Homo sapiens: one gene and its partner. The protein of the gene in region 2 interacts with the protein of the main gene of each other region in a pairwise test. Each region holds a gene or a part of one and is shown on either strand. Other genes may lie near its edges. The genes, in order: PRMT3 and PPARD.

Region 1 (3,822 bases), on a different chromosome or scaffold from region 2:
AGTTTTGCAAACTTTACTCACATGCTAATTTTTGGAATTATTTATAAGTTTAAGGAGTACTAGTACTATCATCTTGTTAATTTTTTCTTAAATTCATTTAACTTAGGCTCCTTGTAAACAATAGTATTTATCAAATCATAGTGCTAATGTGCTAAAGTTTTCCTGACACACTAAAATAAATACTTTCAAATAAAAAATGTTTTCCTGTGTTTCACCTAACATCATTTTGCCTACTGTGTATGGTACACCCACCACAACTGCTATAAAATATGTGTGATAACAGTCAATACATTTATAGGAACTGCCAACTTGAAAACACATGCTAATGAAAAGAAAGTTGTTTTAAAATTCATGTCTATAATTGAAGATAAGTTTTGTTAGATATGAGGAGAAACCACACAATTCAAACAAAACAGCAAAACTATGGAGATTTCGATCCAGAGAAAAAATAGCGAAATATCTTTATTTTCCCATTCTGCCCTTTTTCAAATCCTTCTCCATTATACTTTGGAGAAGGGATGGAATCACCTTTCAACTACAGCAGTCTAACCAGAAGTGTGCTGTAAAGACCGTCATCAGCTGAGTAGATCCAGCCAGGAGTAGATCATAACCCAGTGAATGCAATTAATGTAACCACACATCTGAGACACTATTGAAAACAATTTGAGAAAACATTTTAACAGTACAATGTGTTTGTGGGAGGACTGGAAAATACAGAACAAACTATTTACTTAAATAAATGTTAAAAAAAAAAAAAGAGTACATACACTTTTTAACACCTTATTTTCAGGTCTAAATTTTTCTGTCTCAACTATTTATTCATGGCAGTTTTTGCATTAAGCAGAGATCACTAGAGAGAGAAATCAGCAACCTCCACCAACTCTCCTCTTTCTGCTCAACTTTAAGGCTTAGTTGGTTATAACTGTACACTCCTATCCTGAGCCAAAGAGCCCAAATAAACTCTTTATTCTCACTGTACCAGAGCACTGAAGTCGTATAACCATCAAGCAGACTGTTTTTCTTAAAAGCTGAACGCACTTTTAATCAGCCTGCTCTTGTTAAGAAACTTCACATTTATTACTCTATACTATTAATGCTTTATCCATTTAAGAAAATTAAATATGTACTAAATATCTGCTTTGTACAGAGAAGAAATATTGATGCTATATGAAAGTAACAGCGTGATTAAAACGAGAAGACAGCACTTCGGGAGGCCGAGGCAGGCGGATCATGAGGTCAGGAGATCAAGACCATCCTGGTCAACACGGTGAAACCCCATCTCTACTAAAATACAAAAATTTAGCCAGGCATGGTGGTGCATGCCTGTAGTCCCAGCTACTTGGGAGGCTGAGGCAGGGGAATCGCTTGAACACGGGAGGCGGAGATTGCAGTGAGCCGAGATTGCGCCACTGCACTCCAGCCTGGGCGACAGAGTGAGACTCTTTTTTTTTTTTTCTCTTGAGACAAAGACAATATCCTGAACCTAACACTGAACATACTGCTCTAGATTTGATTATCTAGTTGAAACAGACCAAGAGTTAAGAAAAGCAGTATTGTTTTTTGCTGCAAAGTTATTAGTGAACCCATGTAAATTCAACATAGAAAAATTCATAATAAACCCAGAGATTAACATGGCAAAAAATAAGATGACAAAACACAAAAGGAATTAACTGAGAAATCTGAACATAGTAGGGCTTTCGTTTCATGGGCAAATTTACTATATGTAATTACTTAATCTGAAAACGCTGGAAGAAATCTGAATGAGAGAAGTTAAACTGTGTGGAATATATGACACGAATGAATAATCTGGCTGTAAATGAGAAGCTAAAATAAGGCTGGGGAGGATGATGAAGCAGAACTGATAATACAGCAGGACTTTTTACCTTATTAAGCCAAAGTAAATATAAATTATTCAACCGGTTCAGAGTTAGATTTGAAGGACTGTAAAACTGAGTGTAAGGAGTTTTAATATACAGAGAAGTGATTCTAAAGAGATGATATAGTCAACTGGTAAATATTATGACCTCAATTTGTTTTAGACTGATTACAATGGGAAAAGTACTGTTTTGAAAGCCCATATATAAAATCAATATATTATTTTCAAATGCTGAACTAAGAAAAATAGCAATACCATTATAAAAAATAAAGTTGGTAAAACACCTACCTTAATACCACAAGGTTCTGAAATAAGAGTCTTCGGATCTAAAACTTCCACAACAGCTTCTGGAATAACTGCTTTCTTCATGCAGGACATCTTGAAGCCATAGACATCATCCCAAAAAGCAATTCTATCAGCATGTTTATTCACATCACTCACTGCTACAAGGCTGATAGTGCAAATGTCAGGGTAGACTGTAACAAACAAAATGCCCAACAATTAAGCATTATCTCCCTTTCTTATGGAATATAATTTTTTAAAGCCTAAATATAAATATCAAATCCATCAGTAAGGATTACTAGCAATGGGAGATTAATGAAGGTATAGATCAGGAAAAACAACCATGCTTCATCTTGTAGCCTCTTTTAAAAACAGATACGCATTATCATGATGATAAAATTAAAACAGGGATTCCAATGATAGGGTTTGAATTAAAATAGGGTTATATAATTAAACAATTCTGAAATAAACATATTTATTGATATTAAAACTTAAAGTATGCTAACTTAAAAGGTACTAGATCTTTACTTATTCCTATATTCCTCTAAAAACATGCAGAAAAGGACAAATCATTTAAAAAGATATGTAGCATGTAAGAAAATCATGTAATAGGGTTTTATAGTTATACAGAAGACCACTTCATATTACTCTCATTTAATAGAAAAATATTTATAAGCATAAAGTATGTGCCAGACACATGTGCCAGTCTAATTTACAGACTATGGACACATATCACTATCCTCAATAAACTTATATTTAGACTATTTTGAAAAAGAAATGCATAGTTATTTGTGAGGTAATAAATACTAAGAACAGGAGCATCCAAGGTACTAAGGGAGCTCATGGCAAAACCAGCTAATTCAGACTTGGCTGGAGCAGGGGAGAAGGGATAATATATAAGATAAGAACTGAAGCCCAGTAAGTTGGGAGTGGGGAGGGAAAGTGTATTCTAGGCAAAGTGAGCAGCAGTGTGCATAAAGGGTCACAATAGATGGGATGGCCCATATACAATCTAATTGAGAGAGAAATAAGACACAAGGCTAGAAAGGTAAGTAGAGACCAAAGACTACATGCTGAGTAAACCAAATTAGTAAACTGGACTTAATTCTAAGAATAATGATAATCCAGTAAAAAATTTTACATAGGGTAGCAACATGACTAGATTTTGATTTTAGACAAACCACCTGGAATGCAATGTGGAGAATAATGGGAGGGTCTAAGATGAAAACAGAGACAAATTAAGAGATAGTTAAAATAAACCAGGTGATCTGAACTAGGATATTGCTGTGGGAATGGAAAGGATGAGATGTATTCAAGGGATATTTATGAAGTAGAACTCAGAGGACTTTGAGGCTGAGTGGCTGTGGGGCAAAAGGTCAAGGATGACAGTATTTAGCTTTAGTAACAGCACAGATTGTGGTACTAACCATTATAATAGGACATAAATATGGGCAGATTCAAAAGGAACAGGAGCATTTAGTGCTTAAGAGATAAACAAATAAAAATGTCTGAAATGTAGCTGAATACAAAGGTCTGAAATTCAAAAAAGGATATCTAAGTTGAAGACATAAATTTGGAGACCATAGGCATATAAATGAAAGATAAGTAAAGGGAGTTCATGAGACCTAGGGAGAATAGATAATGAATACTAGAATTCAAGGGAC
Region 2 (3,822 bases):
AGCGAGTGCAGGGTGTCTACTCCCAGCAGTATATCCTTATGACCCTGAGTTCCCTCTAAGGGGAGGAGCGAGGATGAGCTGCATGTGCAGGCCTGCAGCACTTGGGTAAGGAGAGAAGTGGTGGGAGAAAGCAAGAAGCAGAGGGATCAGGCCAGGCGCGGTGGCTCCTGCTTGTAATCCCAGCACTTTGGGAGGCTGAGGTGGGTGGATTGCTTGAGCCCAGCGGTTCGAGACCAGCCTGGCCAACATGGTGAAACCCCATCTTTACTAAAAAAATACAAAAATTAGCCGGGCGTGGTGGTGCACGCCTATAATCCCAGCTACTCGGGAGGCTGAGGCAGGAGAATCACTTGAACCCAGGAGGCAGAGGTTGCAGTGAGCTGAGACTGTGCCACTGCACTCTAGTCTGGGCAACAGAAGGAGACTTTGTCTCAAAAACCACAAAAACAAAAAAGCAGGGGGAACTGCAGCAGGGAAAGCCAGGGGCTGCATGGATTCTGGGTGCTTTTGAAGGTAAACATAACATGATGATGATGAAGATGACAGAACAGTACAGGGTACTAGAGAAAACTGTCTGCACTGCTGATAAATAAAGGGGAACCAATAAGTGAGACAGGAGAAGCTACAACTGCTTGGCTGCATAAAAATAATATTAGTTGAGTTATTCATACTAACTGCTTAGCATTTTTATCTAATTATGATACGGCTCAATGATGATGTGTATAATTATTACCAGACCAATTGAACTGTGTGTTTCGACTGATCATAACAATCCCAGGTACAGCTGATCTTTCTAGTGTGCTGTTAGTGGAGATTGGTCTCAGATGCCTTGTGTTAACAGTGGTGGGAATACTAATAATGATGATGACATGTGTTACAGATGCCCACTCATTTAATTCTCACGAAAGCCCATATCCACATCACCTACCATCCTTTGGCCTGTTTTACAGAAGGAAGTGGTGCAGCTTGCTCCAGGCCCCACTGCTGGTGAGTGGCAGAGCAGATCCCCACCGCACTGGGCGTGAACCCAGGCTTCCGGCTCCAGTCCTTCAGCACTCTGCTACTCTGCGCCCCACATGATGGCGTTTGCAGAGGGCCAGGATCCCCACTGCACTGGGCTGTGCCTCCTCTGCCCCGTGTCCCCTGCCAGTCCTCTCCTCACCTGTGTAGCTGCTGGAAGGAAGTGCATGCTGTGGTCCCCCATTGAGCTCTGGGGCTCCTTCTGCCTCTGCCACTTCCTCTTTCTCCTCCTCTTCCCGGACCTCAGGGGCTTCCTCCTGTGGCTGCTCCATGGCTGATCTCCCCTCGGCGCCACACCTGCAGGCCCAGTCATAGCTCTGGCATCGTCTGGGTCTGAACGCAGATGGACCTCTACAGGGTGGTTCCCATCAGCCTGGGCAGAGGAGAAGACAGGAAGAGGTCAGGGGAGGCAGTGACAAGGAAGAGGATGGTGCGAGTGGGGCACGCTTGGGGGCTGCTGTCATGGAGGGGGTTCTTCTGCTCCTGCTCCTTCCCTAGTTCCTGCAGTGCTATACCATGGTCTCTGCTCCTTGTATCACAAGTCACCTGCCCTATCACCCTTCCCACCTGGCTCTTGTAGTGGGTTTGTGGGGTTCGGAGCAGGCTCCATAAACTAGAGAGGTGACACATCACTGTGCCACCCTTCCCTGCCTCCTCTGCTGCCTTCTGTTCTGAGTCTCCAGGAAGCACATTGGAATGACTTGAGGGGCTTTTCCCAACTCTCCAGCCCACCTGGAGATCCAGATATGCATCACGCCTCCCATCCCCGACCCTGTCCCTATCAGCACTCAGGCCCAAGAATCACGGCTCTGCTGTGCTACTGTTCCTGAAGGGGTGAGTCCCATCCTTTCAGTGGTTGGGTGTGGAAAAAAGACATAAAGCCCTGCTGTTCTTGGCTCATGTTGACAGCAGATCTGCAACCATGGCCTCAATAGCAGAGACATCAGAAAAAGGAAGATGTGCTCCATCCTGGAGTCTTTCCAAGGTGACAACTTACTGGGTGGTGATGCCACGTCCACATCACCCAGGAGGAGACAGTTCCAACCCTTAGCAAGTAAAACATTATCCACAAATGCCACAGTCAGAGATGATAAGATCATGAGGTACTGTGGAGAGTCTCCCAGCGGGGAAATGTCTGCACCAGACCTTGTGGAAGGATCAGGAGAAGAAAAGATCTGCTTTAAGATGTTAAGCATCTGTGGGACCCCAACTCTCAGATATTTTACCGACAGCTCAAACTCAATCTATCCAAACAGAACCCATCATTTTCCCCAAACCCATTCGTCCTCTAGTAATCTTTACTTTAGCAACCCACCTGCCTGTCTACCCACTCATCAGAACCAGAACCTGGAGTGATCAGAGACTCCTTCTGCTCTCTCTCCCTGCTCTAGACCTGCCAACTCGGCTGTACACTGTAGTCACTGGGGAGTTTTTAAAAAGACAGATGCCTGGTCCCATCCCCAGAGATTCTCCTTTGATTGGTTTGGGGAGCAGCTTGGACATTGGGTTTCTTATTTTTTAATTGTCCTGGTGATTGTAATGTACAGCCAAGTTTGTACAAAACATGTTAAGGCTACACATTCATTTCCACCAGGCCTTCCCTTGCTTGGACTTAACAATAACCTCGGGGCCTACTTGAGGGTGGAGGCTGGGAGGAGGAGAGGAGCAGAAAAAATAACTATCGGGTACTAGTCTTAGTACCTGGGTGATGAAATAATCTGTATAATAAACGCCTGTGACACAAGTTCACCCACATAACAAACCTGCATCTGTACCCTGAACCTAAAATAAAACACCACCACAAAACTCTTAGCTGTTTTCTGATGGGTTTTTTTGTTGTTGTTGTTATTGTTTTTTGAGACAGTCTCACTCTGTCGCCTAGGCTGGAGTGCAGTGGCGCAATCATGGCTCACTGCAGCCTTTATCTCCCGTGCTCAAGGGATCCTCCCACCTCAGCCACCCAAGTAGCTGGGACCACAGGTGTGCACTACCACACCAGCTAATTTCTGTATTTTTTTTTAGGGATAAGGTTTTGCTATGTTGCCCCGGCTGGTTTTGGACTCCTGGGCTCAAGCAATCTGCCCACCTTGGCCTACCAAGGTATTGGAATTACAGGCATGAGCCACTGTGCCTGGCTTAAAAATAATTTAAATTATAATAAAATAAGAAGGCAAAACTTAATAATGTGGAAGATGAGAGGGAGTGATCAACATTCAATCAGCTCAAGTCCCTTTACTTCTCAAAAGATGTCTCAAGATGCCGATGTATGATTTCCAAATCATTAGAGTGGGAAAACCTGGAAAAGGTCACGTAAACCTCTAGCTTTGTGACTGAGGAAGCCTCACAGACAGGAGCAGACCACAGAGACACAACTAAATGAATGTGGGATCCTGGACCAGATCCCCGAAGCAGAAAGGGGGCAGTGGCAGAAAAACTGGTAAGGTCTGAACAACACACTGACTTTGGTTAATAGTATTGTACCAGTGTTCCTTTATGTAAGATTTAATGTGAGCTGGGTAAAGGATATGTGGGGACTCTGTACAATCTCTGCAACTTACTCTGTAACACCGAACTTTTTTCAAAATAGAGTTAGAACGAAAAAACCTTTAAAAATTTTGGTTTTCTGGCTTCTCTTGAAAATTGGGCAGACCTGGCCCTTGGGCACCTGCATGCCTCTGGCACCCACCCCCAGAGCCAAGCAATCGGCTGCCCACTCGCATGGTCTCCACTAGTGGCAGTTTCTCCCCTGCAGGCTCTTTACTCATTTACACTGCATTGCAGGGACTTGATAGTTTGTTTAAT

The links.
Region 1: the proteins of PPARD (region 2) and PRMT3 interact in a two-hybrid assay, tested with the Homo sapiens proteins (one large-scale study listed by BioGRID and IntAct).

Annotation. Positions count from the first base shown.
Region 1 is NC_000011.10:20,460,510-20,464,331, reverse strand, and holds part of PRMT3 (protein arginine N-methyltransferase 3), read right to left. Parts: intron 2,353-3,822; coding exon 2,165-2,352; intron 1-2,164. UniProt on the Homo sapiens protein: Protein-arginine N-methyltransferase that catalyzes both the monomethylation and asymmetric dimethylation of the guanidino nitrogens of arginine residues in target proteins, and therefore falls into the group of type I methyltransferases.
Region 2 is NC_000006.12:35,408,558-35,412,379, reverse strand, and holds part of PPARD (peroxisome proliferator-activated receptor delta), read right to left. Parts: intron 2,167-3,822; exon of another isoform or gene 2,018-2,166; intron 1,394-2,017; 5' UTR 1,293-1,393; coding exon 1,163-1,292; intron 1-1,162. UniProt on the Homo sapiens protein: Ligand-activated transcription factor key mediator of energy metabolism in adipose tissues. Receptor that binds peroxisome proliferators such as hypolipidemic drugs and fatty acids.